Homo sapiens: one gene and its partners. The protein of the gene in region 4 purifies or fractionates together with the protein of the main gene of each other region. This does not show direct contact. Each region holds a gene or a part of one and is shown on either strand. Other genes may lie near its edges. The genes, in order: TIMMDC1, POF1B, NDUFS3 and ACAD9.

Evidence for each region.
Region 1: the proteins of ACAD9 (region 4) and TIMMDC1 purify together in Homo sapiens (affinity purification with mass spectrometry; 5 studies listed by BioGRID and IntAct, with this or other methods). This does not show direct contact.
Region 2: the proteins of ACAD9 (region 4) and POF1B purify together in Homo sapiens (affinity purification with mass spectrometry; 2 studies listed by BioGRID and IntAct, with this or other methods). This does not show direct contact.
Region 3: the proteins of ACAD9 (region 4) and NDUFS3 purify together in Homo sapiens (affinity purification with mass spectrometry; 4 studies listed by BioGRID and IntAct, with this or other methods). This does not show direct contact.

The regions. Positions count from the first base shown.
Region 1 is NC_000003.12:119,500,704-119,510,028, forward strand, and holds part of TIMMDC1 (complex I assembly factor TIMMDC1, mitochondrial isoform 1 precursor), read left to right. Parts: coding exon 1-157; intron 158-2,828; coding exon 2,829-2,917; intron 2,918-3,250; coding exon 3,251-3,318; intron 3,319-9,325.
Region 2 is NC_000023.11:85,298,401-85,307,725, forward strand, and holds part of POF1B (protein POF1B), read right to left. Parts: intron 8,877-9,325; coding exon 8,763-8,876; intron 7,934-8,762; coding exon 7,781-7,933; intron 7,511-7,780; coding exon 7,391-7,510; intron 6,072-7,390; coding exon 5,943-6,071; intron 5,089-5,942; coding exon 5,006-5,088; intron 1-5,005. UniProt on the Homo sapiens protein: Plays a key role in the organization of epithelial monolayers by regulating the actin cytoskeleton. May be involved in ovary development.
Region 3 is NC_000011.10:47,581,723-47,587,036, reverse strand, and holds the end of NDUFS3 (NADH dehydrogenase [ubiquinone] iron-sulfur protein 3, mitochondrial precursor), read right to left. Parts: intron 4,950-5,314; coding exon 4,824-4,949; intron 4,689-4,823; coding exon 4,569-4,688; intron 2,724-4,568; coding exon 2,556-2,723; 3' UTR 2,475-2,555; downstream 1-2,474. Other genes in the region: protein FAM180B isoform 1 precursor, read right to left, coding at 184-268. UniProt on the Homo sapiens protein: Core subunit of the mitochondrial membrane respiratory chain NADH dehydrogenase (Complex I) which catalyzes electron transfer from NADH through the respiratory chain, using ubiquinone as an electron acceptor.
Region 4 is NC_000003.12:128,875,604-128,884,112, reverse strand, and holds the start of ACAD9 (complex I assembly factor ACAD9, mitochondrial), read right to left. Parts: upstream 4,494-8,509; 5' UTR 4,422-4,493; coding exon 4,272-4,421; exon of another isoform or gene 4,096-4,271; intron 4,023-4,095; exon of another isoform or gene 4,002-4,022; intron 1-4,001. UniProt on the Homo sapiens protein: As part of the MCIA complex, primarily participates in the assembly of the mitochondrial complex I and therefore plays a role in oxidative phosphorylation.

The DNA of each region.
Region 1 (9,325 bases), 9.4 Mb from region 4:
GAGAATTTCAAAGGACCTTGCTAATATCTGTAAGACGGCAGCTACAGCAGGCATCATTGGCTGGGTGTATGGGGGAATACCAGCTTTTATTCATGCTAAACAACAATACATTGAGCAGAGCCAGGCAGAAATTTATCATAACCGGTTTGATGCTGTGGTATGTACTGGTGATCTAAAGAAATTTGGGGCACACTGACTTAGTAATTCACTTTACACTTAATCATTCAATTAGGTTGTGGGGATGGAGGGTTGTTTTAAGGTGTCAGAGTAAAGAAATAAAGTCTGTACTTAATAACAGTGGAAGTACTAATGTTAAAGTGCCTGCATGTTGTTTGAGAGACTACTTTGTTATCTTCAGAACAGGCATGTTTGGCATCACCACTGTGGCTTTTCTTTCTCAAATACATTTCTTCCAATCCCCTGCTAAATCGTCAAGGCTCAGCTGTAACATATTTACCTCATTCACAAAGCCTCCATGAGTATAGGAGCTCACACTAAAGCAATAGTTAACATTTATAACTTTATAGAGTGCTAACTCGTTTGTTACATCATTAGATCTGTACATCAGTTCTTTTGTGAGAATATTAAAGCTCAGAGAATTTTTAACTTTTTATTTTGAAATTATAGCAGGCTTGAAAGTTGCAAAACTAGTACAAAGATTTCCTATATACCTTTCATCCGGATTCTCCATTGTTAACATTTTACCATGTTTGTTTTATCATTCTCCCTCTGTATAATATGTACTAATTTGTTCTGAGCTACTTGACAGTAGGTTATAGACATGATGAATACTTCAGTGTGTTATTTCCTAAAAACAAGGAAATTCTCTTATACAACCACAATTATAATATCAAGATCAGGAAATTAACACAGATATAGTACTATTATCTTATTTAAAGACCTGTAAATTTTGCTAGTTATCCCACAGTATCATTTATTTTAAAAATAAATAAAAAAATGTATTTTTCAGAAGTTAGGCTTGAGTTCTTATTAAAAAATTAATTAATTAAATTTTTTTTTGTCTGGTCCAGAATCTGACCCTGGATCACATGTTGAATTTGCCTGTTATGCTGCTTTGGTCTCATTTAGTCTGGAAGAGTTTCTCTGTTTTTGTCTTTCATGGCCTTGACTATGGGTGATTTATTTTGTAGAATGTCCCTCAATTTGGGTTTGTTTGATGGTTTCTCATGACTGCATTCAGACTATGTTTTTTGACAGGAATACCCTAGAACTGAAATTAAATTAGAAACCCATGATATCTCTGTCCCTTTACTGGTGATGTTTACTTCAGTGACTTGCTTAAGATGGCCTCTGCCAACTATACACTGTAAAATTACTATGTTTTTCCTTGGTAATTTATAAGTATTTTGAGTACTTGTTAGTTCCTTTGAGACTATGTAAATATCCTGCTTTTCATCAAATTTCTACTACTTAAATGCTATTATAAACTATAATATTTCTACTATCTAAAAACTATTCTAAATTCTTAGCATTTATAATTTTTTTATTTTTTTAAAAATTATTTATTCCTTTATTTATTTTTTGAGACAGGGTCTCACTCTGTTGCCCAGGCTGGAGTACAGTGGCACAATCTTGGCTTGCTGCAACCTCCATTTCCCAGGCTCACTCGATTCTCCTGTCTCAGCCTCCCAAGTAGCTGGGACTATAGGCATGTGCCACCATTCCCAGCTAATTTTTGTATTTTTTGTAGAGACAGGGTTTTGCCATGTTGCCCAGGCTGGTCTCAGAGTCCTCAGCTCAAGCAGTTCACCCCCTCCTTGGCCTCCCAAAGGGTTGGGATTATAGGTGTGAGCCACTGTGCCCAGCCTATTTTTATTTTTTAATTAATTAATTTTTTTTTTGAAATTTTTTGAGGCAGGGTCTTCCTGCCTCAGTGCAGGCTGGAGTGCAGCGGCGCGATCATAGCTCACCACAACCTCAAACTTCTGGACTCAAGGTTTCCTCCCGCCTCAGCCTTCCGAGTAGCTAGGACTGCAAACACACACCACCATGCCTAGCTAATTCTTAAATTTTTTTTGTAAAGGCAGGATCTCGCTATGTTGCCCAGGCTGGTCTTAAACTTGTCGGCTCAAGTGATCCTCCCTAGTTGCCTCCCAAAGTGCTGAGATTACAGGTGTGAGCCACCATACCCAGGCAGTTTTAGCATTTAATGATGATTCTTCCTGTAACAATTATGACTGTGGTGGCCAAATGGGCATTTTCTAAAGTCTATCATTCTTTCTACATTTATTGGTTAGTATTATGCTCTAAGGAAGTGTTTTCCCTTCCCCCCTCTATTTACATATTTATTTATCTATTTATAATTTATTTCTATCAGTAGGGACTCATGGATTCTTATTTTATTCTGTAGATTTATAATTCATTACAGGTTGAGCAGCACAAATCTGAAATCCTGAATGCTCAGATTCAAAACTTTTTGAGCATTGACACGTCATTCAAAGGAATTGCTCATTGGAGCATTTCAGATTTCGGTTTTTTGGATTTGGGATGCTCAACCAGTAAGTGTTAAAAGCGCATATTCCCAAATCTGAAAAAATCCTAAATCCAAGTATCAGATAAGGGATCTGGTCTCAAGTATCAGATAAGGGATACTCAACCATTTTTTCATCTCCTGATAGGATAGGCTACACATGGAACTTTTACGTAAGCCTCAATACTTAAAGAATAGTATTTCTAGAGATTTTCTAGTATTTCTATCTGTTTGGGTGTACCTGACTAATCCATAGCTAAAATTCCTCTACCGCAGTTCTAGAATAAGGAAAATATGATGGTGTCTTAGAACCTCACAGTTTTTTAATTAACTTTAGCAATCTGCACATCGTGCTGCCACACGAGGCTTCATTCGTTATGGCTGGCGCTGGGGTTGGAGAACTGCAGTGTTTGTGACTATATTCAAGTAAGTTCACTCTGAATTGTGAGATAGTGAATTTTCTTGATATTGTTTTAGGAGTGTGTCTTTTGAGCAGGTGGGGTTATGAAAACTGAATACCCACATGAAAGTGATTAATAATGCCTTTTTTTTTTTTTCAAGAACTTTTCTCTGTGTAAAAGACTGGTGTAGTTATGGTTTTACAACCATGTCTGGAACACATTGAAGGGGCCTAGGCTAGGAACAGGGATTGATATAGTAGGCTTTTCTAAATCTATTAAGTCAGTGAAAATAACACTCAAGAAGGTAAATGGGATATGCTTTAAATCTTATATTTTCCTTCTCCTCCCTTTTTACCAGCACAGTGAACACTAGTCTGAATGTATACCGAAATAAAGATGCCTTAAGCCATTTTGTAATTGCAGGAGGTAAGACATTTTTGTTTATATTTTTCAGTCTTCTCAAATACAGTTTAGAAAATGTGTAAGGACTTATACATCAGAACTACTGAATTCTTTGGTTGGCTTCCCATTACATCTCATCAACATTGATGCAAAATGTATTTATGGACAGTGTTGTGCTTCACCCTTGATATACTCAATGGGCAAAACAGCAAGGCCCTTGCTTTCTTTGAATTTTAATGTCTAATATGTATGTGATAATACAGGTTGTTGTGATAGAAAGTAACAATTCGGTGGAACAATGGGATCTCATATGGACAGGGTAGTCAAAGAAGGCCTTTCTGAGGAAGTGACATTTGAGCTGATACCAAAGAATAGGAAGGAGCAAGACTTGCAAGGAAGGGTGTCCTAAATAGAGGGAACATCAAGGGGGAAGGCTCTAAGGCAAAACATTTCCTTAAAAGCAGGATAATAACGTGGTGAGTGAGGGAAAGAGTAGCTTGAGATGAGATTGGTGAGGACTATAGGAATGGACTAGATTTTTTATGGTAAGAACTTGGATTTTATTTTAAAGCTCTCTGCCTCTAGTATATATATGTATATTTTCTTTTTAATGAGCATTAAAAATAGAAGGTACAATGGTGATTACCAGAGACTGGATATGGGGTTGGAAAAGATGTTGGTCAAAGGATACAAAATTTCATTTAGACAGGAGGAATAAGTTCAAGAGATCTATTTAAAACATGGTAACTATGGTTACTAACAGTGTATTGTATACTTCAAAATTGCTTTTAAAAAGTAGATTTTGGCCAAGCGGTGGCTCACACCTGTAATCCCAGCACTTTGGGAGGCCAAGGCAGGTGGATCATCAGAGGTGATTTGAGACCAGCCTGGCTAACATGGTGAAACCCCGTCTCTACTAAAAATACAAAAATTAGCTGGGTGTGGTGGCAGGTGCCTGTAATCCCAGCTACTTGGGAGGCTGAGGCAGGAGAATCACTTGAACCCAGGAGGCAGAGGTTGCAGTGAGCTGAGTTCACGCCATTGCACTCCAACCTGGGCAACAAGAGTGAAACTCTTGTCTCAAAAAAAAAAAAAAAAAGTAGATTTTAAGTGTTCTCACCACAAAAAATAGTATGTGAAGTAACGTGTAGGTTAATTAGCTTAATTTAGCCATTCCCCAATATATACATACTGCAAAACATGTTATACACCATATGTGTACAATTTTTACTTGTCAGATTTAAAAAATAATTTTAAAATGAGCATTCGTTTCAGAAAGGTAAGTTAACTGCTATATACACTCAATCACTAACTTGTGTACATTCTTTTATGTACAACACACATATGTATTCTGAACATAAGTTTGTTTTTGTTTTTTTTTTTGAGATGGAGTTTTGCTCTTGTTGCCCAGGCTGGAGTACAATGGCGCGATCTCAGCTCACCACAACCTCCGCCTCCCAGGTTCAAGGGATTCTCTCCTGCCTCAGCCTCCCTAGTAGCTGGGATTACAGGCATGCGCCACCATTCCCAGCTAATTTTTTGTATTTTTAGCAGAGAAGGGGTTTCTCCATGTTGGTCAGGCTGGTCTCGAACTCCCGACCTCAGGTGATCCGCCCATCTCGGCCTCTCAGAGTGCTGGGATTACAGGCGTAAGCTACCACGCCCGGCCTGAACATAACAGTTTTTAAATGTTTTTTTGGGAATAAGCTTACAAAAGATTGCAAAATAAAAATAATACAAAGGGCAGTCTCTATCCTTCACATACAGAGACTTAGCCATTGTTAACAATTCATGCTGAGAATTTATCCGAAATTAAGTCAGACAACTTGCTTTATCTTCTTGCTACTGCATGCACTCTCCCTCTTCTCTGTGTATATGTGTACACACATGGGAAAACACACAATTTGAACTTTTTTTTTTAACTTTTAACTTCAGGGGTACATGTACAGGATGTGTAAGTTTGTTACTTAGGTAAACGCGTGTCATGGAGATTTGCTATACAGATTCTTTCATCACCCAAGTATTAAGCCTAGTATCTTAGTTGTTTTTCCTGATCCTCAAACAACATTTTAATGAAAACTTTTTAAAATACAAAACTAGAAATAGGCATTAATAGCGTTAGAGCAGCCAGATTGTTTCATTTTTAAATTTGCAAGCATTTTTACATGGGTCTTGTCTACCCACTTTTACTTCCTTACTTGCTCCTGCTGTTACGTTCTCTGTCAATTGTTAAATGTGAAAACCAGGCCAGGCACAGTGGCTCACGCCTGTAACCAGCACTTTGGGAGGCCAAGGTGGGCAGATCGCTTGAGTATAGGAGTTTGAGAACAGCCTGGGCAACAAACATGGCAAGACCGTGTGTGTGCAAAAAGTTATCTGGGCATGGTGATTCATGCCTGTAGGCTCAGCTACTCAGGAGGCTGAGGTGGGAGGATGGCATGAGCCCAGGAGGTCGAGGCTACAGTGAGGTGTGATCATGCCACCTCATTCCAGCCTGGGCGACAGAGCGAGACCCTGTCTCAAAAAAAAAAAAAAAACTAGAAACCAAGGAATGATATGGTTCTGCTCTTTTTTCTCTTTCCACTTCTTGTCCTATTAATTATACTCATTAAATATATATGGATTCTTTCACTTCTTTTTTCCCACTGCTACTATCTTATCGTCCCTGTTTCTAATCTTGATGTGCTCTACCTGTAACCTAGTTACATTTTTGAAATATGAATATGATTTTGCCACTTTTCTGTTTGAAATTCTTCTATAGTTTCCTGTCACTTTAATGTCAATTCTTGATCTGGCTTCCATGCGCCACTCTTTTGCTTTCACTTTACAATCTCCTCGGATTTCCCAACATGTTCTTTCCTTTTGTGAATCAGTCCCTCTTCTTGAATGCACTTTCCCACTACCACAATTAATTTTGTTCGGCTCCTACTTAACCTTACCTTTCAAAGTCCAGATCATTTGTCAGCCTCAGCTTCCCTAGAGAGTTCTCCCTAGCCATTTTCTCCCTAGCCATGTTTAGTTCTATTTAGCTGTCTTTCCCTTGTGTTCACATACTTCACTGTTTTTTTCTTTATCTTTGATTTTCTGCAGTTTGAAAATGATATGCCCAGGTGTAATTTTGAGGAACATTTACTGTGCTTGGTGTTTTCTGAACTTTCTGGATCTGTGGTTTGTTGTCTGACTTAATTTAGGATAAATTCTCAGTGATTGTTTCAAAGATTTCTTTAGCTTTCTCTTCTCCTTCTGGTGTTCTAGTACACTTATACCTTTTGTAATTGTTTCACAGTTCTTGGATATTTTATTCTGTGTTTGTTTGTTTGTTTGTTTTTGGTGGAGGAGGTTCCCATCTTTTTTCTCTTTGTCTTTCGGTTTGGGAAGTGTCTGTTGATAATGTCTTCAAGCTCAGGGATTCTTTCCTCAGCTGTGTCCAGTCTACTATTCTTCAGTTCTGTTACAGTGGGTTTTTAAATTTGTTTTATCGCTAGCATTTCTTTTTGATTCTCTCTTCGAATTTCCATCTCTCTGCTTATATTGCCCATCTATTCTTGCATGCTATCTACTTTATCCATTAGAGCCCTTAGTGTATTAGTCATAGTTGCTTTAATCTCTTCATATGGTAAGTCCAGTATCCCCACCATATCTGAGTCTGGTTTTGGTGCTTACTCTCTTAGTTTTACTTGGTCTCTTCAAACTGCTTTTGCCTTTTAGGATGCCTTGTAATTTTTTTTCTTGATAGCTGGACATGATGTACCTGGGTAAAAAAGGAATTATGGTAAATAGGTCTTTAGTAATTTGGTATTAAGATGTGGGAGAGGGAAAGTGTTTTGCAGTCCTATGATTAGGTTCTTAGTCTTTTAGTGAGCCTGTGCTTCTGAACTGTTAACTTCACAAGTGCTTTTCAGTTTTTTTCCTCTCCTTTGGTGGGACAGGATACTACAGTGGGTTGGAATGGGTATTTCCTTTCTCCCACATGGGAGGCTAGAGCAGTTGCATTTGGATATTCCCCAGGCTGGTTAATCTCTGACAAAACCCCAATAGTTTGGGCTGTGCAAAACCATTTATCTTGAGGGCAGGCCTTAGTGAGAATAACGGAATGTTCTGGCATATTTCAAAATGGTTACTTTTCTTCCCCCTTGCCAGAAGCCTGAGGGGATTTTTCTCAGATCTTTACTGGGAGAACTTGGTAGAGCTCCTGGAGTGTGGGGACCCTCTATGATTGGCTCCCCTACAGTTTTTAGGTCTTAGACTTTTCTACACTGAACTTCCAGCAATTTATCATTTATAGTCAAGGTTTCCTACTCTGGTACTGGTTTCCATGGAGGCTTCTGCTCGTGGGTTTCTGCTCTAATAAGGTGTGATTCTCTGTATTTATCTGTCTGTCTCTCCTATTTTGAGGGCAGCAGTTTACCCATGATCTCACTTCTTTGGTGGATCTAAGAAGAGTTGTCAGTTTTTCCATTTGTTTAGCTTTTTACTTGTTGTTAGGAATAAGTGATAAACTCTAAACTTCTCACATGCCATACCAGAAACTGGAAGTCTCCCTTTCCTTTTTGCCCCACATCTTGACAAGCTGATAAGAAAGCCCAAGTGCTACCTTGGTTGACACCAGCAGGAAGTTTCAACCATGCAAGCTCAGGCCTACATGAGGGAGCTCTTGCTCTAGCCCCACCTTCTAAAACCACAAGCCAGTCAGTCAGCCTTCAGGTTCTCAAGTCATTTTGGGACATGCTTGGGATCTTGCCTTGCTCTCCCTGGAAAGCCTTATTATATGTGTAATAAACCTTTTGGTATCCTCTTAGTACCTCTTGGTACTTTGGCATTTCAATATCTGATTCAAATTTTGGGTGGGGGAGTTTATTGTCTCTGGAGGGTAACCACAACATCTTGCAAGTAGAAAATCCAAATGAATTAAGAAAACCATTGGAAGGCCAGGTGTGGTGGCTTATGCCTGTAATCCCAGCGATTTGGGAGGCTGAGGCAGGCAGATCTCTTGAGGTTGGGAGTTTGAGACCAGCCTGGCCAACATGGTGAAACCTCGCCTCCACTAAAAATACGAAAATTAGCTGGGCATGGTGGTGCACATCTGTAATCCCGGCTACTTGGGAGGCTGAGGCAGGAAAATGGCGTGAACCTGGGAGGCAGAGCTTGCAGTGAGCTGAGATCGCGCCACTGCACTCCAGCCTGGGCTACAGAGTGAGACTCCATCTCAAAAAAAAAAGTTAAGTATAATTTACTGTGCAACTCAGCAATTCCATGTCTTAGAATCTGCCCAAGATAAATGAAAACATGTCCACGCAAAGACTTATATATAAATTTTTATAGTGGTGTTATTCTCGACAGCCTCAAACTGAACCCATAAATTCATCAACTAGTGAATGGATAAATAAAATATGATATGTCCATTCACTTGAATATTTTCATCAGTAAAAAACTGATACATGCTGCGACATGAATAAAACTCAAAAACATTAAGTGAAAAAAGCTAGACACAAAAGACTTCATATTGTATAATTCTATTCATATGAAATGTCCAGAATAAGCAGATCTGTAGAGTTAGAAAGTACATTAGTGGATTGAGGTGAGATTGGGAACCAGGAGTAACCACAAATGGGCGTGGGGGATCTTTTTGTAATGATGGAATCATTTAAAAATTGGATTTTGGTGATGATTATATAGCAATGCAACTAAATTTTTTTTTTTTTTTTTGAGACGGAATCTTGCTCTGTCGCTCAGGCTGGAGTGCAGTGGTGCGATCTCGGCTCGCTGCAACCTCCACCTTCCGGGTTCAAGGGATTCTCCTGCCTCAGCCTCCTGAGTAGCTGGGACTACAGGCATATGCCACCATACCCGGCTAATTTTTGTATTTTTAGCAGAGACAGGGTTTCACCATGTTAGCCAGGATGGTCTCAATCTCCTGACCTCGTGATCCGCCCGCCTCGGCCTCCCAAAGTGCTGGGATTTCAGGCATGAACCACCGTGCCGGGCCACTAGATTTTTTTACTAAAAATTATTGAATTGTACATTTAGGTGA
Region 2 (9,325 bases), on a different chromosome or scaffold from region 4:
GCCAGAGGTACATGGTGAAAGTGGGTTGCCCTGCTGTCACTTCACTCACCCATTCCTTAGGAGGTGTTCAGGACCAGGAACTAATCCTGGTGCTTGGCACACCAATGCAGTTTTCCCAGCTTTCTCCCTATTCAGCCTTAGTATCTGTGTTACCTATCAAATCTCAGTGTTTTCTCTCCAAAGATCTGTTTGAAGTACAAACAGATAGTGGAGAATTTGCTGGTTTGTTTATTAGATATTTTGGTCTTTTGTGGTGGGAGAAGTACTTCCTGGATGTGTCTACTTGGCCATCTTGTCCCTCTCTCCAGAAACTACTTTCAAAGAGGACCAGATGGTGTATTTAGAAGATAAAGACTTCAAAGTAGCTATAATAAATATGTTTATAGGGCTGGGCTCAGTGGCTCATGCCTGTAACCCCAACACTTTGAGAGGTCATCATGGGATGATTGCTTGAGACCAGGAATTTGAGGCCAGCCTGGGCAACATAGTGAGAATACAAAGAACTAAAAAAAAAACCATGCTTAAGGAAGCAATGGAAGACGATGTCAGTGAAAATATACAACAACCTCCAGAAATGCTCTATGCCATAAAAGAAAAAGGAAATCTGGCCAAAAAAAATCAAAATTAACTTTATCAGGACTCTCAAAATTAATAAACTTTTACAGCCATCAGAGAGCATTTATTTAGGAAAAACAGCTAAATCAGCAAGATTTGTGGCATTTGAAATTGTTCTATTCTCATCTCTGTCTCTCCAACTATGCAATAGAATTTTAAAACAATCTTTTTTTTTCTTTTTTTTTTTTTTTTTTGAGACGGAGTCTTGCTCAGTCACCCAGGCTGTAGTGCAGTGGTGCGATCTTGGCTCACTGCAAGCTCCACCTCCTGTTTTCTTTTTTTTTTTTTTTTGAGACGGAGTCTCGCTCTGTCGCCCAGGCTGGAGTGCAGTGGCTCGATCTCGGCTCACTGCAAGCTCCGCCTCCCGGGTTCACGCCATTCTCCTGCCTCAGCCTCCCGAGTAGCTGGGACTACAGGCGCCCGCTACCACGCCTGGCTAATTTTTTGTATTTTTAGTAGAGACCGGGTTTCACCGTGTTAGCCAGGATGGTCTCGATCTCCTGACCTCGTGATCCGCCCGCCTCGGCCTCCCAAAGTGCTGGGATTACAGGCGTGAGCCACCGCGCCCAGCCTCCACCTCCTGTTTTCACACCATTCTCCTACCTCAGCCTCCCGAGTAGCTGGGACTACAGGTGCCCGCCACCACGCCTGGCTAATTTTTTTTTTGTATTTTTAGTAGAGACGGGGTTTCACCATGTTAGCCAGGATGGTCTCAATCTCCTGACCTCGTGATCCATCCACCTCGGCCTCCCAAAGTGCTGGGATTACAGGCGTGAGCCACCGCGCCCGACCCTTAAAACAATCTGGGTAAAACCCAGGAGCCTGGCAGCAACTAGAAGACAAAACAAGGTTAGAGCTCCTTCAAAGCCACATTGTCGTTATAATTGTCATTGTTTGATTTGTCTGTTGATTCTGTGGAAAACTCCACTTGCAAGGATGCCTTTTAAAACTTGACTCGTAGCTCAACCAATTTGCAAATCCTTTTTCCTGGGAACATTTGTCGAAAATAATGTGTGGAAATTGTTTAATATCACAACTACCTGAGGTGGCTATAATAGTTCAGGCAGACAAGAAATTGACCAAAAATGATAAAAGGAAAAACTGAGAAATAAATTGTCCATAGTGGGCTTTGAAAATTTGTTATATGTTCCTGGGAATCTAGAAAGCCACAGGCATGTGTAGGGCTTTGTACATGCCCAAGGCTGTACGCATGTGAAGGAAAGACCTGAGAAAATCCTGAGCCCTCAGTACTGGCTAACCTTAAAACTCTGTGTAAGCAGGAACTGGGGGCTAAGGACGAGCTATAAATTGCCTACCAGAACATTGAAGAGGTGTCCAAACACAGACAAAGAGCCTCTCAGTGAAAACTAGGAGACTTACTAGTTTCATGTTTGTAACGAAACCTCTGTTTAAATGTTAACTGACCACTAAGATAAATGAGCAGAGACTTCAGTGACCACATATGAAAAGAATACAGACTTTATAGAATTAAATCAGAAAAGCCACTAAGCAAAAGACAATAACATCAACAGCAAATAATAGCAACAATGAACACCTTGGCAGGAGGGAGTATCTAATTTCCAGAGTTACCACATTATATTATTTTCAATGTCACGTTTTCAATAAAAAATTATAAGACATGCAAAGAAACAAGAAAATATTGCCTATCATGGAAAAAATCACTTGAAACTATCCATTAAGAAGCCAGATGTTGCATTTACATAGCCTTTAAATTGGCTATTTTAAGTATGCTCAAAGAACTAAAGAACTAAAGGAAAGGATGAGAGTTGTGGCTTATGGAATAAAGAACATTATTAAAGAAAGAGAAATTACTTTTAAGAGAAACTACAGTAATTCTGAGGTAAAAAAGATAATAACTAGATTTAAATTTCTCAACAGCCGATGTAAGCAAATGGAAGAAAGAATCAACAAATTGCAAAGAAGGTCCGTTGAGTTTATCTATTCTGAGGAACAGAAAGAAAAAAGAATGAAGAAAAATAAACAGAGCCTCAGAACATTCTGTTCTGTTTATGGGGACTCCACAAGGAGAGGGAGGAAAGTGGCAGGAATGATAGCTGAAGAAATGTCTGAAAACTTCCCAGATTTGATTAAAAATATCAATCTGCACATCAAAGAAGCTCAGCAAATGCCAAATAGTGAAAAATAAGAGATCCAAACCTTGACACATAATAATCAAACAGTCAAGGGCCATAGAAAAAAATAATCTTGAAAGCAGTAAAAAAGAAACATGTCAGGGGGATCCTCAATTAAAAATTATCAACTGATTTCTCATCAGAAATTATAGAGGCCAGAAGGCAATGGGATGACATATTCCAAGTAACAAAAAAACACTGTCAGCTGAGAATTATTTTATCCAGCAAAACCATTCTTCAAAAATGAAGGAAAAGCAATATATTCCCATACAAGCAAAAACCCAAAGAATTTGTCACTGCAAAACCTGTTCTACAAGAAATACTAAAGGGAGTCCTACAAGAAATACTAAAGGAGTCCTTCAGGCTGAAATTTAAGGACTCTATACAGCATCCCAAATCCATTTGAAGAAATAAAGATCACCAGTAAAGGTAACTATACAGGTAAATATTAATTAAATTTCTGGGGGAAACCTAAGGGGAAAAACTCAGAAAATATAGTAAAAGTAACTAAAATGGAATTAAAATGTTACTGTAGAAAATATTTTACACAGAAGAAGGCAGGAATGGAGGAACAGAAGAACAAAAAACATAAGACATAGAAACAAATAGCAAAATAGCTAATGTAAATTCTAACTTATGAATTACATTAAATGTAAGTGCATTAAATATTCCAGCTAAAAGCAGAGATTGGCAGAATGTATAAAAAGATACAACCATGTGTGGTTTACAAGAGTCACAGTTTAGAATCAAATACACAAATAGGTCAAAAATGAAAGGACAGAAAAAGATATTTCATACAATTAGTAACCAGAAGACAGTTTATATTAATATAAGACAAAATACTTATGAATGTAAAATTTATGATCTTGGGTTAGTCAACAGTTTCTTGTATATAATACCAAAAGCACAAGCAAGAAAAAATATAGATGAATTGGATTTTTTTCTATATTAAATACTTATGCTGCATATTATACTCTCAAGATAGTGAAAAGACAACCCATGGAATTGATGAAAATATTTGCAAATCTTGTCTCTGATAAGGGACTTGTGAACATGTGAAAATCTCTTGCAATTCAACTATAAAAAGACAACTCACTTAAAAAATGGAAAAAAATTGAATGGACATTTCTTCAAACAAGATGTATAAATGGCCAATAAGCACATAAAAATTGCTAAAAAACATTAGTTATTAGGGAATACAAATCAAAACTCCAATTGGATACCACTTTCCACCACCTAGGATGGCCATAATCCAAGAGATGAACAATAACAAATGGCAACGAGGATGGGGAGAAAGTGGAACCGTCATACACTACTAGGAATGTATGATGGTGCTTTTGCTTTAGAAAACAGTATGGCAATTCCTTAAGCATAGAGTTATCATGTGACCTATCAATTCCACTCCTAGGTATATACTCAAAAGAAATGAATACATGTACCTTACACACTTGTACACAGACGTTCACAGCAGCATTATTCACAATAGCCAAAAATTGAAAACAACCCAAATGTCCAACTGATTAATCAATAAATAAAATGTATATCCATACAACTGGATATTATTTAGCAACCAAAAGGAATGAAGTCTTGACTCATGCTAAATCATGCTTGCATCCTGCAAACATTATGCAAAATGAAAAATCCAGACACAAAAGACTATATGTTGTATTATTTCATTTATATGAAATATCCAAAATAGACTTCTGCTGAAGCTATTCATAATTACTTTATATTTGGTTTTGCTAAATGGCTGGAATGTAATTTGTGGTCATATTGCTACCGTGAGGGTAGACCTTACCTGATTAAGATGTCTACACAGGAAAGAGCAGAGCCAAGATATAAAGAAAGACATATTTATAAAGGCATATTTTGAACACACAAATCCATCTGGATACCAAGTAACCCCATTTAAGTGAATTTAAAAAGTCCCAGTTTACATTGGGTCTCTTGTCACATGAAACAGAAAGAGTCCTAACTAATGTGGTTGGTTAAAAAAACAATTATTTGTTTTTCACTTCCAAGGTAATTAATATATTGTAAATTCAGGAAAGATGTGCTTCAGGATTTTTTTGACCACAATAGTGATGTCTTTTTGTGAATATTCATTCTTCAGTAGAATAACTGGCCAGCAGAAAACACCAAACTCTGTCTAGCTTGTATATACCAATTAAACATGAAATAACTTGGATTATATGATCATAATTTTTATATTCAAATTTCATTTAAAAATACATTACTTTTTAGTGGTAATAGTAGTCCTTCCACCAGTGGAGGGTTGGTTATGAGAGGAATATATTTCTTGCCGCAACTTGGAGAGTTCCTTACAAATAAAAGATAATATAATCATTTGATGGAAAGTAGAAACATGAGATAATAAATATATTTAATCATTTAGAAGGGTTACTAACAATGATTATACCCCCTCCCTTTTACCCCTTTTTAGCCTTGACGTAATAATGTTCTAATCCCACTTGTTGAATATCACCTAGTGTTGCTTCACAGTACCTAATAAGTTATATTATATGCCGGTGCAGGAACCTGCAACTGATACAGGATATCTAAATTTGGAGGATAACTTGAGATTGAATGGGCGTGGTTCTCAGGATGAGGATGTGAAAGTTTTTGCTCTGAAAAGCCTGAAAAGTATATCCATAGAAGAAAAGTATTGAAACTTCAATATATAAGCAGATATAGTTTCTTAAGAGAGAGTTTATCAATGAATGTTACTACAAGCACCATTTGCTCCATAACAGCAATACAATATTACCCATAATTTTTGACAATTCCTTCAGTACCTATTGAATGCCAGGTCATGGGCTACATGCTACAGATACAAGGAGGAATATAACACATGCTTTAATGAAGCAGCTCATAATGTAGTAAGGAGGTCACAGTCTACTGGGAATTTCACTGCTAATGAAATATAAAATCAATGTCTTAAAAATATTAAATGTATAACAGCACTTATTTTTTGCTTCAATTGTAACTTTCATTTGAATTGTGTCTCCTGAAATATGTATATTCTACTTCCTCACTTGCACCTACATTTTATTTCATTAAATAAAGTGACTCTTGGATATGTGTCCTTTTCTAGTCCATGGGAAGTATTTATCCTACAGTACTACAGTACTAAGTTGTATTACTTTTCTCCATCCCCACCCCTTCCTTTTATACCTCTGACTGACGCTTTATGAGGGAATCCTTCTCTTCCAGCAAGCTTGTCAGTTCATGAAGCTTAAATTGGAAGTCACTACAACTTCCTTCTCTCTTTGAAACATCTTTATGGTACTGGTTTAATTGGGACTAAGGATTTAAAAAGAAATAAATATTATTATAATCTTCATATAGAAAATGTGTAACTGAGTTCCAGGGAGGTTAAGTGACACAAACTCACACAGTTATGAAATGAAAGTAAAATACCAATAGTCATAAACGTTCGAAGAATTTCATGAGTATGTAATATGAAATGAAATGCCAATTACAAATTTCTCCTTTTTTTAAGGTGTCTTTGCTATGTAGGACTAAACATTATCTACGTAACAGTCTTAGGCCACAAAATTTAAAGTAAAGCTAAGAAAACAGGCACTTTAGAGTCCTTGAAATAATAATTAAGGAAATAGCAATAACAAATTACTACTATTATATTCTGATTTTCAGTTCACAAAATATTCCTCCTGCATGAATTATCTCAGTTCTCACAGCAGTCCCATGAAATAAGCATTATTATAATCTTCATTTACAAAACAGATAATGGGCTCCAGAGAGGTTAAATGACACAGTCACGCAGTAACATAGCTGCAACTCCAAAACAGGTCTTCTGACTACAAATCTTGTCCATTTCCCTCTTTACCTCATATGTGTGTAGCTTAGGTAGAAGTGCTGTTAGTAATGTTGGAATGGAAAAGAAATCAGTGGAGGAAATCTGCTAGAAGTATTGGTAGGTTTGGAAAACAAATTATATTTTGTTTCATTTTGATTTTTGGTAAAAATTATACAGTGATGTTTGGAGAGACAAATTTGTGATTATTTTGTTTATTAAAATATTTAAGTATATTTTACTACCTTTAGGAATCAGTAAAATAAGGGTTAGATTAAGTAAATTCAACCTAGAATTACAAGTTAAGGCAATATATACTTATAAATATCACCTTAATTTTGATGTCAACTATAGGTACCTAAAACTTAACACTGTTTTCCTCCTCATGCTTGACAAAGTCCTTGCTATTCATCATCCCTCGAAATTAAGTGAGAATTTTTACAAATCTAACTATGGCTCTGTTGAGTAATTTCATATATTGCTTTTGCCTACATAAGCATGCTTTAGGCAAGATCATGAAGAGTCCTCCATCTATCCCAAAAAATAAATTAATAAAAACCAAAACCAAACCACTGAAATGAATATCTTCTTTTACTTTCCTAGAAGAAATTAAGCTAAATTAGAAAATCATTTAACAGTTATATTTTAGATACAGTAATGTATTTAAAACAAATGAATACATGACATATTTCTAAAACTCTACCTTCAGCTAATTTTTTCTGGTAGCTTTAAACTTGAAGCCATCATTATCTTGCTAGAAAGTTTGTGCTGACCTGTGTATTTATGCAATGTAGGATCAACATACCCTCAGTCTGCAGATCTCTCTATCTTTCTCCATTCTCAAGTTTTTTACCATCTCCGTGTAGTGGTTGCCAATCTCATCCATTTTAGCCTGCAACATTGGGCCTGTGCAAGTCTCAGAAACCTACAGAAGGCAAAATAACTATCTGTAATTGGATTGTTTTGAAGAAAATACATGTTATGTTACAAGGATTGTTATTAGATGAAAACCACATGATTAAATAAGACATTGAAATAATGAAAGTGATTTTCAGGAACTGCATTATAAAGCTCAAATGTCAGTGATTAAGATCTAACAGTATGTGAGGGAAAGCAGTCCATATGTTTTCTAAATGCTAGGATTACAATGATGTAACTAAGGTAATACTGTATATTTAAAAGGAAGTTTTAATACCTGCATTCTAAGGTTTTGATTCTCTTGCTCTAAATTACGTTTACAATATTCCAGTTCTTTTAGTCTGTATTCCATGTCTGATAGTGTATGTCGAAGAGAGAGATTGTTTTCTTCCAATGCCTGGCATTTTGAACTTGAGTCTTGAAGTCCTTGCTGTAAAGAAGACACAAGTACATAAGACAAATGCATTTTGTTTTTGGTGAGGGAGTGTTCTTTTTATTGATTCATTCAATTGAATCAAGTAAATATTTTCCTATGCCCAGTTTTCTTATACTCTGGGTCTTAGATGGTACATTAAGTCACCCATGTAAGATATTATAGTGTTGCCTCTAGTCTCACTCATCTATTTTGTGAGAGAGGGAATCATGACTAGATGAATTTATAATGTCTCAATTTAACAATCAGACTCTTGCTACTCTGTGACAATACTGTACCCTGCTTTCTAGTAGGCACAGAAACGACCATATGCCTGATTATTTACATGACAACTAGTAACTGAGCAAGAATTTGGGACAGCCATAGGAGTAAAGATCAGGAAGAGGGTAATCCTTAGAGACTACTTACAATTTCCTAGGAATTCTCTCTGCTCAGACATCCAGAGAATTCATCTAGAGTTTTTTCAGTCATTTATTTATTGCACAAACATGTATTAAGGTCTACAACAGCTTTTCTCATTGACATGTTAGTACATTAAATAAATGCATGAACCTAGATTTTTAGTATTTCTACAATTCTGGTCACCCAACAAGACAAATAATTGTGTCCCATATGTACTTTATATCTAAAATAGATAAGATTATCTGTTTTTCTGAGAGGGCTTTCAGCCATTAGAAATACCCAAAGCCACTCAATTCTCATATGAACAAATTTTTCCATCATATTTAATTCTGTCTTGATTATATCTCATAACTCCAATGTGCCAGTAATTGTGCATATGAAAAGCTATCAATGTAGATTAACACCAATAAAAGCATCAGTTTACCTGCTGCTGGTGATTATTTGCTCTCACTGATGCCAAGAGTTCTTCGTACTCTTTTAATTGAGTGTCTTTGAATGATAAATCTTTCTCAAGTCTCATCTTGTCATTTTCCAGTGACTAGAAGCATAAATTATTTATTATGATTCAGAATTGCAAAAACTTAACAGTCACATAATACAAAGACTTGCTTACCTTGGAAGATTTAAATAAGCACTTGTTTCATTTGTACTTGCTTAATAAAGCAGAATTCTTAAAAGTTAAGAAAATACGGGATAGGAAATGATTGAAACTTCTAAAACCTTCATTGAAAGAGACATTTTGATGGACTAACTATACATGAAATGAAGCACAACCCTCTGAAATGTTTTAATGTTTTCCTCCAATCTACAAAGAGTCCTCGTTAATCCCAGCGAGTGGTAAATTTTTAAATTAGAGTCTAAATATGTTCATCATAACCCAGAAACAACAAAACTACTCCAAAGTCCTCAAGGCATTATTCAATGTGTGGAAAGCATTCTGAATGTATCTAGCTGATGGCACCAAGAACACCAATTAAAATAGAAAAT
Region 3 (5,314 bases), on a different chromosome or scaffold from region 4:
GGTGTCACCTGTACCTTTCCAGTTCTGGGGGTGGGGCCCACACTGTCACCCACCACAGCACACATCAGCCTGGTACCCACCATGCCCACGCTTCTATGCCCGACTAGCCTCAAATAGAGCCAACTGTTAACTGCTGTCAGCCAGCAGCCTTGGCTCCTCTCCACCCACCCTGAAGCCTGGTACCTGCATGGGGCTGGGTTGTAGTCACACCAGAGAGGAGACAAATGGCTACCACCAGGCAAACCAGGAACTGCAGGGTCGCAGCCATGCTCAACCACGTCCTCTGAGTCTCACTCTGTTCAGCAGTTCTCTGCTCCCTCATCTGCCTGCCACACACCTCAGCTCCAACTTTCCACTGCGGGCTGCTCCAGAGCTCTGTAATGCGTGTCATTCTTCAGTGCTGAACAGGGAGGGGCTGGCTGTGGCCTCGGTCACCTCCCAGGGGCTCTTTCCATCCTTTAGAAATGGGGAATCTTTGGTTGTTGGCAGGAGCCTGGCTCCCTGCTTGTCAGGCCCTCAGCCTGTTCCTGCCCAGCTGGGCGGTATGCTTAGTTAATAGGAAAAAGGTGTTTGGTAGCAAATAGCTGTAGCTTGGCCCTCCCAAAGGGTAGGAAAGAGCTCAGGCAGTAAGACCATCTTACTGTCTGCGCCCTCAAAATATCCTGCGACTGAGGCCAGCCCCGACACCCAGTCTGGCCCAGCCCAGCCTCCAAGGAGCCCCTCAGCTGCCAAAAGCATCAGCTGCAAAGTCTTCCAACTGCATGGTGGGCTGGCTGGGCGGCCCCACAGACAGGCAGAGCCAAGCACTCCCCTCTCAGGCACTCTGCCGCAGGCTGGACAGACAGATCAGCTGGGCTAGGGCGTATTGTCCCCTGGCAGACAGACAAATCTGCAGCTCCTGAGTGGTTTTTGCCCCAGCCCTGGGACCTCTTGTTTCCTAGCAACATTCTTAATTCAGAGCGGGCACGGTGGCTCATGCCTGTAATCCCAGCACTTTAGGAGGGCAAGACAGGAGGATGGCTTGAGCCCAGGAGTTCAAGACCAGCCTGGGCAACATGGTGAGCCCTCATCTCTACAAATAAATTAGCTGGGTATGGTGGTACACACCTGTGGTCCTAGCTACTCAGGAGGCTGAGGTGGGAGGATCACCTGAGCCCAGGCAGTCTAGACTGCAGTGAACCACGATCACACTGCTGTACTCACTCTAGCCTAGGTGACAGACCAAGACCCTGTCTCAAAAAACCCCCACCAGCCTGGCGCGGTGGCTCACGCCTGTAATCCCAGCACTCTGGGAGGCCGAGGCGGGCAGATCACCTGAGGTCGGGAGTTTGAGACCAGCCTGACCAACATGGAGAAACCCCATCTCTACTAAAAATACAAAATTGGCCGGGCGTGGTGGCGCAAGCCTGTAATCCCAGCTACTCGGGAGGCTGAGGCAGAGTTGCTTGAACCCGGGAGGCGGCGGTCACAGTGAACCAAGATCATGCCATTGCACTCCAGCCTGTGCAACAATAGCAAAACTCCATCTCAAAAAAAAAAAAAAAAGAAGAAGAAAAAAAGAACCCCACCATTCTCAGCTCAGGCCAGAAACCAGGGAGATTCCTGTAGCCCAAGAGTGATTGGCTACCATGCCACACCCATCCTGAACCCTGTGGACTGTGAGAACTTTCAGTTACAGCTCCAGAATCCCTCTCAGAAATACATCCATGCCTGCAGGCCACCACGTCTGCAACTACACTCTTTAGTCCCATTAAAATAGACCTCCGGCTGAGTGTGGTGGCTCACGCCTATAATCCCAGCACTTTGGGAGGCCAGTGTGGATCATTTGAGGCCAGGAGTTCGAGACCAGCCTGGGCAACATGGTGAAATCCCATCTCTACAAAAACTATAAAAACTAGCTGGGCGTGGTGGCGTGCATCTGTAATCCCAGCTTCTTGGGAGGCTGAGGGGGGAGAACCGCTTGGGCCTGGGAGGTGGAGGTTGCAGCGAGCTGCGACAGCACCACTGCACTCCAGCCTGGGTGACAGAGCGAGACTCCATCTCAAAAAAACATAAAAGAGCTGGTCACAGTGGCTCACGCCTATAATTCCAGCACTTTGGGAGGCCGAAGCAGACAGATCACCTGAGGTCAGGAGTTCAAGAACAGCCTGACCAATATGGAGAAACCCCGTCTTTACTAAAAATACAAAATTAGCCAGGTGTGGTGGCACACACCTGTAATCCCAGCTACTCGGGAGGCTGAGGCAAGAGAATTACTTGAACCCAGGAGGCGGAGGTTGTGGTGAGCCGAGATCACGCCATTGTACTCCAGCCTCGGCAACAAGAGCGAAACACTGTCTCAAAAAAAAAAAAAAAAACCCATCAAAGACTCCCTGGTTTAGTAGTGCCTCTCTAAGAGAGCAGGGAAACACCCCTGCCTGCCTGTGTCCCCCCCAAAGCATCACTTCTCCACATTACAAGCACACACAAAGTGGTAAGTCTAAGTAGGAATTTATTTACACGGACACTCAATCATAGATAAGGCGCTGTCTAGGATCCACATGCGTTCCCTGGAGCTACTTGGCATCAGGCTTCTTGTCTCCGGCTTCAAGCTTGAGACTCTCCGGGGGTTGGCGATAGACTGGGAAAGCCTCCCAGGGGCTGTTCAGGTCAAATTTGCGGAACTCTTGGGCCAACTCCACCGGCTCTGCCACCACCCGCTTCACTTCATCATCATAACGTAACTGCAGGAGCAAAAGGCAGGCTTGAGCACTAAGGAAGTCCTTATTATAGCTACACAGGAGCCTACTTTTCACAAGGCTATTGGTGACTTCCCCAGCCCATTCCTCTCGGTTACTGACTCCTGTCCCAGCCTCTGTCAGTAAGTCTCCATCCATACCTGTGTTACCCGTCAGATCACATCCCAACCAGCTAGAGTGTGTGATTCCAAAATGTAGGATACCTCTCATGCCCTGCCAGCACCAGTCAGATTCCCCTGCTCACCACTCCCACATCAGGAGCTCCGAACTGACTGCTCACCCACCCACACACTCTTACAAGGTAATGGTAAGCATTTGCCCAGGATTAGGGAGTAGTCGGTGGCTGAAAAGAGTAAACCTAAACTGGCAGATACACAACCTCAGGCCCGGTGCCCTTGGCATATTCACAGTCCAGATCTAAAGCAGTACATTTGACACAGCTTTTCTTGTTACTTGGGGATCAAATGGATAAGGTAAGGATCATCAGGTGCTAGAGTGAAGAGGCAAACCAGGTGAGGCAGATAGCAGGAGTGGGGTGAAAGGGAGAAGCGAGGGAGATAGCCCTGCCCAGAAGTAGCCCAAGAGGGAAATAGGAGCATGCAAAGCACTAACACAGCAGGAGTGACTGGGAACTAAAAGAGCAGGGCTGGAGCACCACATCTCTGCATTTCTAAACAGTTACTTTGCTATAAAATTCACGAGTGATAATATTACACACTATCTTCCTGCAAATAACCTGCAGCACCACTGAAATTCTTTATTCACGTTACTGGTCCCACCTCAGAGGTAATTTTTGAGGGCTAAGCATCTGGTGTCTTCCCCGTCACTGCCTTCCCAGAGAGTCAGGGCAGGGTAAAATAATCCTCTACTTTCAGGTTTTAGGGACAGACTGTGTCGTCAAGGCTGCCTTGATCATTAAAATGATCATTACAATAATGGATAACACTGGCCAGGTGTGGTGGCTCACACCTGTAATCCCAGCACTTTTGAGAAGCTGAGGCGGGCAGATGACTTGAGCCCAGGAATTCGAGACCAGTTTGGGCAACATGGAGAAACCCCGTCTCTACAAAAAATACAAAAATTTGCTGGGCATGTTGGTGCATGCCTGTAGTCCCAGCTACTCGGAGGGCTGAGAGGTGGGAGGATTACTTGAGCCTGGGCGGTCAAGACTGCAGTGAGCCATGATCGCACCACTGCACTCCATCCTAGGTGACAAGAGTGAGACCCTGACACACACACACACACACAGCATCAATTGAGCCTTTACAATACAGCAGGCTTCATACATCATTTATTTATTTAGAGACAGGGTCTCACTCTGTTGCCCAGGCTGGAGAGCAGTGGCGTGATCTCGGCTCACTGCAACCTCCGCCTTCTAGGCTCAAGCGATCCTCCCACCTCAGCCTCTTGAGCAGCCAGGACCACAGGAATGCACCACCATGCCCCGTTAATTTTTCTATTTTTTTGTAGAGAAGAGGTTTCACCATGTTGCCTAGGCTGTTCTCGAACTCCTGGACTCAAGCACTCCTCCTGTCTTGGCTTCCCAAAGTGCTGGGATTACAGGCGTGAGCCTACACATACATTATTTAATGCCAGCCACAAATCTATTAAAGTGCTATTATTATTGCCATTTTAAGATGAGAAAACTGAGTTACAGTCAAACCAAGTAACTTGCCCCAGGTTACAAAAATGAAGCTAGGATCTGAATCCAGGGCCCATGCTCTTAAACCACCACAATCCACAGACCGTATTTCTTGCCATTCCCAGGGATCCCCTGGGTTCTCTGCAAGTCCCTCCCTGAGGCTGCTGTCCCAGTTCCAAGGCTCCTACCTCAACATAGCCAGATAGAGGAAAGTCTTTCCGGAAAGGATGTCCCTCGAAGCCATAATCTGTCAGGATCCTTCTTAGATCAGGGTGGTTAGCAAAGAAGACTCCAAACATGTCCCAGATCTAGGAAAGAGACCACCTCAAACAGCCAATCCATCAAGACTAACAACAGGGGGAAGGGGCTACACTGCATCCCGTAGTCTGAACCAGTTCTGCAACTGTGGCCCAGAGGCAGGTCCACCATATCCGGTAACTCACCTCCCTTTCATACCAGTTGGCTGCCTTGAACACAGAGACAGCAGACTCAATGGGCGTCAGCTCATCTGTGTAGGTCTTCACACGGATCCGTGAGTTGAAGCGCAGAGACAACAGGTTGTAGACAATCTAGGGAGAACAGAAGGATCTGGAGGGCTGAGATGGGAGTCCCTGATTGGGAGAGTTCTGCCCTGTGACCCTGCCTTCTATTCTGAACCTCAAAACCTCAAGATTCTCCTATGCTTACAACTACTTCCAAAGGCCCAGGCCACAGCTGTAGCTTAGCATGTCAGCATGCCTGTGTTTGCTCATGCTATTCACTTTGTCAGGAATATTTCCCTGGTCCATCTCACAAGGCTACCTGGTCTCCTACTCATATTTTAGATTCAGCACAAACATTCTCTCTTTTCAAAGAAGCCTCCCAGACAGGGCCAAGTGCCCCTCCTGCTTTCTTAAAGCATCCCTCTAATATCCTTTGTATTATATGTTACTAC
Region 4 (8,509 bases):
ATGCTTACCAAGTCTCATCGATCCCTACAGCCGCTGTCTCTCCTGCTCACAGACATCTGCTCCCTGTGCTGAGCCCCTCTGGACTTTTGGGCTCTGCTACCCCTTCAATTGCCAGCATGACATGAGCTTTGGATGTGGGCTTCAGGCTGTTGAGCAGTGATGTCCTGAGTCAGAGCTATAAGCCCAAGCATCACCTGTCCTCATGGCGCCTCTCACCAAGTGTTCTAGAGAAGTCTTGGGGAGACCTCAACCTTCTCCTCAGACCTTGTACAGCTAATCAGCCAACAGATTTCTCTACTCTATCAATATGCTCGCACTGCTTTCTCCTCTCTGGGCCCAGGACCACAGGCTTATAGGTGAGTCCCTAACTAAAAGTGACAGCCAACTTAAAGGAATCCCTGCCTCCATCCATTCCAAAACCACCCTGAAGGTGGTATAGAAAAAAAAAAAGGTTGGAGGCCAGGCACGGTGGCTCACGCCTGTAATCCCAGCACTTTGGGAGGCCGAGGCGGGCGGATCACGAGGTCAGGAGTTTGAGACCAGCCTGACCAACATGGTGAAACCCCGTTTCTACTAAAAATACAAAAATTACACGGGCTTGGTAGCACGCGCCTGTAATCCCAGCTACTCAGGAGGCTGAGGCAGGAGAATTGCTTGAACCCGGGAGGTGGAGGTTGCAGTGAGCCGAGATTGCGCCATTGCACTCCAGCCTAGGTGACAGAGTGAGACTCCATAAAAAAAAAAGAAAAGAAAAAGAAAAAAACAAGCTTAGCTGGTTGCAGTGGCTACTGCCTGTAATCCTAGTCCTTTGGGAAGCTGACGCAGGGGGATTGCTTAAAGCCCAGGAGTTCAAAACCAGCCTGGGCGTGGTTGCACACGCCTGTAGTTCCAGCTACTCAGGAGGCTGAGGTGGGAGGATCCCCTGAGCCTGGGGAGGTTGAGGCTGCAGTGAGCTGTGATTGCACCACTGCACTCCAGGGTGGGCAACAGAGTAAGACACTGTCTCAAGGAAAAAAAAAACAAGAAAAAAAAAAAAAAACAAGCTGATGGCTCCATCACTCTGCAGCCTTTTATATCAAAGCTCAGTCTCCTTCACTGAACACAGAGGCTCACTGACACTTGGGTCTTGTGCAATGGGCTGTGTTAGAGATCATTCTGGTACCAGTGGGCAGGCCAGATAAGACTGCCTGGCAACTAATTGGCCTTCAGGTACAACCACAGAAAACCTGCCACACAGGAGAGATTGCAGGGGCGTGGGAGAAAGATCCTGATGTTATCAAATCAGGTCAATGCCTTAGGGGAGGAGAGTTCAATTGCAATAAACAGTTTGTAAATTATCTAAAAAAGTGGAACCTGTTATTCAAAGAAATCTAGTGCAGAAACCAAATATGTAAAACAGACAGAAGCAGGCGGCTCTGACTGAGACTGCTGATAGGGAAAACAGGCACCCAAATCCCACCCACTCAACTTCCCACCCATCCCTGCAGCAGTTCCAGGACACTCCATGAATAGCTTGGGTCCAGCTTAGGGCAGGGTGACAACCACTGGCCTACACAATCTGAGATTCTAAGCATCATGTCCCATGTTTCTGCTCTAATCCCAGTAAGGCTGTGAGAGATGACACTGGCCTGATCCAAAGTAGCAGCAGAAGGGCCTAAAAGTGGTCAGATTCTAAGAACCTAAAAGTAGAGAAAACCAGATCTTCTGTGGAATTAGAAGTGGACTAGGAGAATAAGAGTACAAGGTGACTCCAGGTGTTCTGTTTGAACAGGTGGAACAACAGAGCCACCATTATCTATGATAAAGAAGGCTGGTGGAAGGAGCAGGATTGGGTGGGAACCAGGAACTCAGTTTGGGATCTATTAATCTCAAATGCCTGTTAGACCTCTTAGTACAGCTTTTGAGTACAAAGGTAGATTAAAAAAAGAATCTTGGCTGGGTGTGGCAGGGCGTGCCTGTAGTCCCAGCTACTGGGGATGCTGAAGTGGGAGGATCTATTGAGCCTTAGGAGTTCAAGGTTGCAGTGAGCTATGATGGCACCACTGCACTCCAGCACAGGTGACAGAGAAAGCCCCCAACTCTGAAAAAGCAAAAGGAATCTGGAGTTCAGGGAGAAATCTGAACTGAAGAAAGAAACTTGAGGCATCAGGATATTGATGATATTTAAAGCCAGGACACTAAATAAGGTCACCCAGCAGATGGCTGTAGATGAAACGAGACCCAGCCTTAGTAAATTCCAACTTGGCTAGTTGGAAACACTGGTCACTGTTTAGCGGTCAAGGAGCTGAATAAGAACCAGCAATGGACACAGAGAAGTATCAGCCAGTGAAGTATTTAGAACATTCAGAGAATGGCGAGAACAGTGATTCAGAAACCAGAGACGAAAGTGCGTCAACAGGGTGGAAGGATGAACGGTGTCAGATGCCAATGATGGGTCAAGTAGGATGAGGTCTGAGAACAGATCACACAATTTGATAACAGAGAGGTCATTACTGACTTCTATGGCCATTAGGGACAAATGCCTGAATGGTAAGGGCTCAAGATCCAGTAGAGAGAACAGTTAATGATGCAGAGAAAGGAAAGAATTACCCTTGAGTAGGTGAGAAGACCTGGAGTCTAATGAGAGGTTGGTTTTGCCAGGAGCAGACAGTTCACAGTAACAGAATGTAGATAATACCGGCACATATGCAGCGGGAGGGGGTAACTGTGCCTGTGAACTTCTCATCCGACTGCATGGATTTTCCCAGTGGAATGGGAAGCAAAGCTGACAGCTGAGAGTAAAGGCAGGGCAGGGCAGGTAGTGCCAGAGGTTTAAAGATGGAAACAGATCTGAAAGATCTGTGTTCTTTCTTCACCATGCTGCTGGATAGCAGGAAGTCCCAGGATAGAGCACCACACTGCCCCAGGTCCTGGGTAAAAGGTTTTCCAATATGTTCAAGACATAGCTCCGCACTTTCTAGCTGGGCAAACTGCTTTTAGTCTGAGTCTTAGCTTCTTCATCTGTAAAGTTGCTTGCTATAAAGGTATCAGCCTGACAACCTCAGAGGAACGTTCCAAAGAGAAGCCAGGGAATAACTTCTGTGATACAGGATCAGCCAACATTCAGCCAAGTTCAAAGTAGGGCACCTCGACGAAATAGCAAGTATACTGTTGGTTTCCTTAGAAGATAAAATGAAATACAAAGGAAAGAGCAAGAAATGTGTTTATTCCTATTTTGTAGATGAATGCACTGAGGCACAGGGAGGTGCAGCCGTCAGCTCCAAGGTCACAAGACTAAGTGTTGAAGCCAGCTCTCTCTTCTGCTGCACAGTACTCTACAGTTTAAGAAGACTCTCCATGCACCGTTTATCTCACTGGGGCTCTACAACACATCTGTGAAGGAGACACAACACTATCTCCATTTTAAGGCTGAAAGAACTGAGTCTTGGCCGGGCGCGGTGGCTCACCCCTGTAATCCCAGCACTGTGGGAGGCCGAGGTGGGCGGATCACCCGAGGTCAGTTCTAGACCAGCTTGGCCAACATGGTGAAACCCCGTCTCTGCTAAAAATACAAAAAAAAAAAAAGCCGGGCAGGCGCCTGTAATCCCAGCTACTCCGGAGGCTGAGGCAGGAGAATCGCTTGAACCCAGGAGGGAGGTTGCAGTGAGCACTCCAGCCTGGGCGACAAGAGCGCGACTCTGTCTCAAAAAAAACAACTGAGTTTCAAAGTCAACGAGCCAAGACCAAACCCAAGTCTTCCAACTCTAAGAAGACAATGAGTGTTTTATAACCAAACTGTTACTATTGGCTGGGTTGTGCCACCCTTGGGAAGCATCTTGGAGCCAGATTTCTGAGGAACCTCAATGGCAGGGAGAGGCGCTGGGCTCACCTGGGGAAGGAAGCCCCAGGGCGCTGGAAGGTGACTGAGGAGGGACATGGTGTAAGCTGTTTAGGAATCAGAGAGGAAGCCCCGCACATTTCCAGACCAGACCAGCTGAGATGAAGGCTGCTTTGTTAATTACCTAGCCTAGAGTTTTCCGAATTCCCCTGACAAAATTTAGCTGGAACACGTCACCACCACATTTCCAAGGGTCCCCCGTCTTGGAAATGTCTCACCCTTTCTCTGGGAAGGTTTTCCTGGAACTCAGGAATCCGGAGTGTTAACACGCCTCGGCCGCAGGGTGTATCTCTCTGGCAGGTTTGGGGAATCTCACAAAGTTCAACACCAGTCTTGCAGCTGAGGGTGAAAAGCGGGAGCCAGACAGCAAGGGTTCGCCCAGGGCTCGCGTTACCTTCTTGATTTTGCCTAGGAAAAGCTCTTTGGCGAAAGCTCGTACAGGCGGGCTGGTGCGCAGTAGCCGCCGGTTCGCGGTAGAGACCACCAGACCCCGGCAGGCACGAGCCGCAGCCGTGGTGCGCAGGAAGAGCCCGCAGCCGCTCATGCTGCCCGATGTTCCCCAGCCTCAGCCTCAGTCTCCCCTTCTTAGCGCCGCAGGGACACACACACGTCTGATGACGTTACTGGCCCGCGACAACGTGCAGTACTCACTGCGCTTGCGCGGTCCCCCGCAGCAGGGGATGGAGAGGCCAGAAGGGCGGGAAGGCTACCACCTGCCGCGCCCAAGGCCTTAGTCACGTGCACCTGGCTGGCCCGCGCCGCCTGATGACGTCACACGCCTACGCTTCCCGCCGGCCCCACTGCGCTTGCGCGGCCAAAGGAGCTGGCCGGAGGAAATTGTAGGCCCTGGGCCGCGGGCATCTCGGCGGGTATAATCTCTGGCCGTCGTGACGGCGGTGACGGACCTGTTTTTCACATACCAGCGGTTGTTTCCATAAATGCCAGCCATGGGAAATCTCCCTGTGTACAGAAACCTAAAGGCCGGCTCAGCTGCCTCCACTTGTCTCTTTTGTCACTTGTGGCCACGAGGCCGTGGTAAAACTTGAGAAAAGCAAAAGAATGAGGGAAATGCGCTGTATTGGGGTCTCTGCAGGGGCACGGTAAGGGTAAGGGTCCATTTTTAACTGGATGGTGGATTCCTGAGATACTGTTTTGTTCCTAGTTGACATGTATGTTACATATATTTTTTGGAAAAGGAAAAGAAAGTGGGTGTTCAGTCACAGAGCGGTCTGGATACAACTGAGTCACCTCTGTCCTGGGAAACACTAACTTAAAAGGCAGGCGGAGGAAGAGAAACTACAGAGAGAGCTGAGAAGAGATGGGAACTATTGGATGGGATGGGACAGGCCAGGCTGTAACCGCCCAAGGTTACAGCCCGCTGACTAGACAGCTGATTTATCAAGACGGAAATTGCAATAGAGAGAGAGTAATTCACGCAGAGCCGGGTGTGTTGGAAAGGGAGTTTTATTAGCCAAATCGGTCTCCCCAAAAACGGATCGGAATTTTTAAGGATAATTTGGCGAGTAGAAGCTCGGGAAGTGGGAGGTGCATGATTGGTCGGGTTGGAGATGGACTGATAGGGGGCCGAAGTGAGTTTTTCTTGCTGTCTTCTGTTCCTGAATGGGATTGCAGAACTAGTTGAGCCAGATTACCAGTCTGGGTGTTGGTAGGTTTTACAACAGTGATGTTATTCCCAGGAACAATTTGGGGGACGTTCAGACTCTTGCAACCAAAGGCTGTATGGCCTCTAAACTGTAATTTCTAATCTTATAGCTAATTTGTTAGTCCTCCAAAGGCCAACTGGTCCCAGGCAAGAAGAGGTTGTTTTTTGTTGTTGTTGTTGTTGTTTTCCCGGGAAAGGGCTATTTTTGTTTTGAAGTTAAACTATAAACTCATTCCTTCCCAAGGTTAGTTCAGCCTACGCTCAGGAATGAACAAGGACAGCTTGGAGGTTAGAAGCAAGATGGAGTTGGTTAGGTCAGATCTCTTTCATTGTCTCGGTTATAATTTTGCAGTGGCGGTTTCAAGGCCAGGCCATAGGGGCCCACGTAGGAGGCAGGGCATGCCTGGCACCTCACAGCCCAACAGTGCTCTGAACGTGGCACATGGGCCCTCTACAGATCTTCAGCCAGCTCCTCCAGGAAGAATGCCACTCTGCTTTTTCACCCAGACCGGTAATCTGGCTCAACAAGTTTTGCAATCCCACCTAGGAACAGAAGACAGCAAGAAAAACTCACTTCAACCCCCTATCATTCCATCTCCAACCCAACCAGTCAGCACTCCCCACTTCCCGAGCTCCTACTCGCCAAATTATCCTTAAAAACTCCGATCCCTGTTTTGGGGGAGACTTGCTTGTTCCCCGACTGTAGCATTGACCACAGTGTTGGGAAATGCCTCCAGCTTCCATTGTGTCAACTCCTTGAGAAGAAAAAGAAATCCCTTTCATCTCAGCAAGCTAAGCTCAGCACCAAAAAAGATTACATTGCTAACACAACATCAAGAAAAAAGAGCTCAAAACTCTGCAAGGCGTAGAGTCTAAACTGCAAAATATTTGCAGGCATCTTTTCAGATTATTTTACCTTGTCTAAGGTCTCTCACCTGGTTTCTTCATCAGTGGTTGATATTTACTTGCTTAGCATTCAGCTTCACAAGAAGGTATTTGGAAACAACTGCCTTTGTAAATTATCCCCATAGGTAAAACAAAGAAAAATATACATATGTTGCAAAAACTGTTTCAATTTTGAGCTGCTGTACTTTTTTGCCAAACAAATGTAGTCAAATCAGTCAAGTACTCTGTTAATGTGTCAAATGTTTAGTGTACACAGGTCTCCCTAAATCAACCAAATGAGAAATCCAGTGGCACAGAATTTTACAAAACAAAAATTAGAAAAATGTTAAGGCATAGTTTCTAATTGCTCCAATAGAGTATAGCAGAAGAGTTTTGCTGTTTCACTACTATACTAGTTTCTAAATTCAGTTTCCTCATCTGTAAATATGAGTATGATACCCTTTATCTCACAGGACTTTTAAAAGGTTTAAGTAAATCCACATGAAAGCACTTAGCACAGCAAGTGATAAAAATGACAATAGTTACACTTTGATCCTTCCATCTTATATTTAAGTATTAGCCTCTGAGAAATATGATGTTGTTTTAAACAGTTTCCCCTGTTCAGTGTACTAAAAGAAAAACTTCAGCTGAATTAAATTTAAAGGAGCTTAATTGGCCGGGTCGGGTGCAGTGCCTCATACCTGTAATCCCAGCACTTTGGGAGGATGAAGTGGGCAGATCACTTGAGGTCAGGAGTTCGAGACCAGCCTGGCCAACATTGTGAAACCCTGTCTCTACCAAAAATACAAAAATTACTGGGCATGGTGGTGAGTGCCTCTAATCCCAGCCACTCGGTAGGCTGAGGCATGAGAATCACTTGAACCCGGGAGGTGGAGGTTGCAGTGAGCCAAGATTGCACCACTGCACTCCATCCTGGACGACAGAGCAAGACTCTGTCTCAAAAGAAAAAAAGTTTAATTGAGCAATCGATTCAAATCAGGCAGCTTTCTGAGCCAGAGCAAGCTCAGACACTCCAGCACAGCCATGTAATGGAAGATTTATGGACAGCAAAGGAAAGTGAGGTACAGAAACAGCTGGATTGGTTACAGCTCTGCCTTGCCTTATTTGAACATGGTTTGAACAGTTGGCTACATTTGATTGGCAAAAACTCTGTGATTGGCACAAGTATAGGCTACGGTCTGTTTATGCCTCCACTTATAGTTCACAATGTGCAGAAAACCTATAAGCCGAACTTAAAATATATAAGGAAGCAGCTTTAGGCTAAACTTGATTTAACAACTGTTTAAAATATCCTCATGGTAGTTCTGAATGTCTCCTCACATCAATACAACTGATTCACAACATAACTTAACAGAAAGTGAACATTCTTTAGCCATAATGTTAGTGTTAGCATAGCAGAATCCTTGACTCTGGGTATGAGGAACATTGAGTAGAAACTACTGCTTGATCCCTTACTATTAAAGCTGAGGCTGAGATTGGACTGATTATTTTACAAGCCAAAGACCACCAAACCATCAAAAGGTAGGAGAAAGGCTTTCCTGCAGATGCTGCTGCAAAGACCTGCCCCTTCCACCTTACACCACCATCCCCAAGGGCCTAGAGGCCTCTGCCTAGAGCTGGGGGAAGAGGAGACTGCGAAGAACGATCCCATCTTTTAAAAACCGGACAGAAATCACGGATTCCTTCCACTTACATTCCCTTGGGAAGAACTTAATTTGGGGGCAGGGGCTAGGAAAGGGAGTGCCTGGGCAGAAACGGTTTTGACAAGCGTTCGTATCAGGACAATTTGGGAAAACCCAGGTGAGTGATTACTGAGTGACCCTCGACTCCGGTGTTTTGACACCAAAATGTGCAAGGCTTCCTCTCTGATTCTTAAACATCTCAGGCCATGCCGCTCCCATGTCACCCTCTAGTGGCCTGTGGGCTTCCTTGCCAGCTGAGCCCTAGCCCTACCCCCGCCTTTGAGGTTCCGCAGAAATCTAGCTGCAGGGTGACTTCCACAGGTCTCACAACCCAGCCAATAGTAACAGCTAGGTTATTAAACACACCATCCTCTTAGAGGT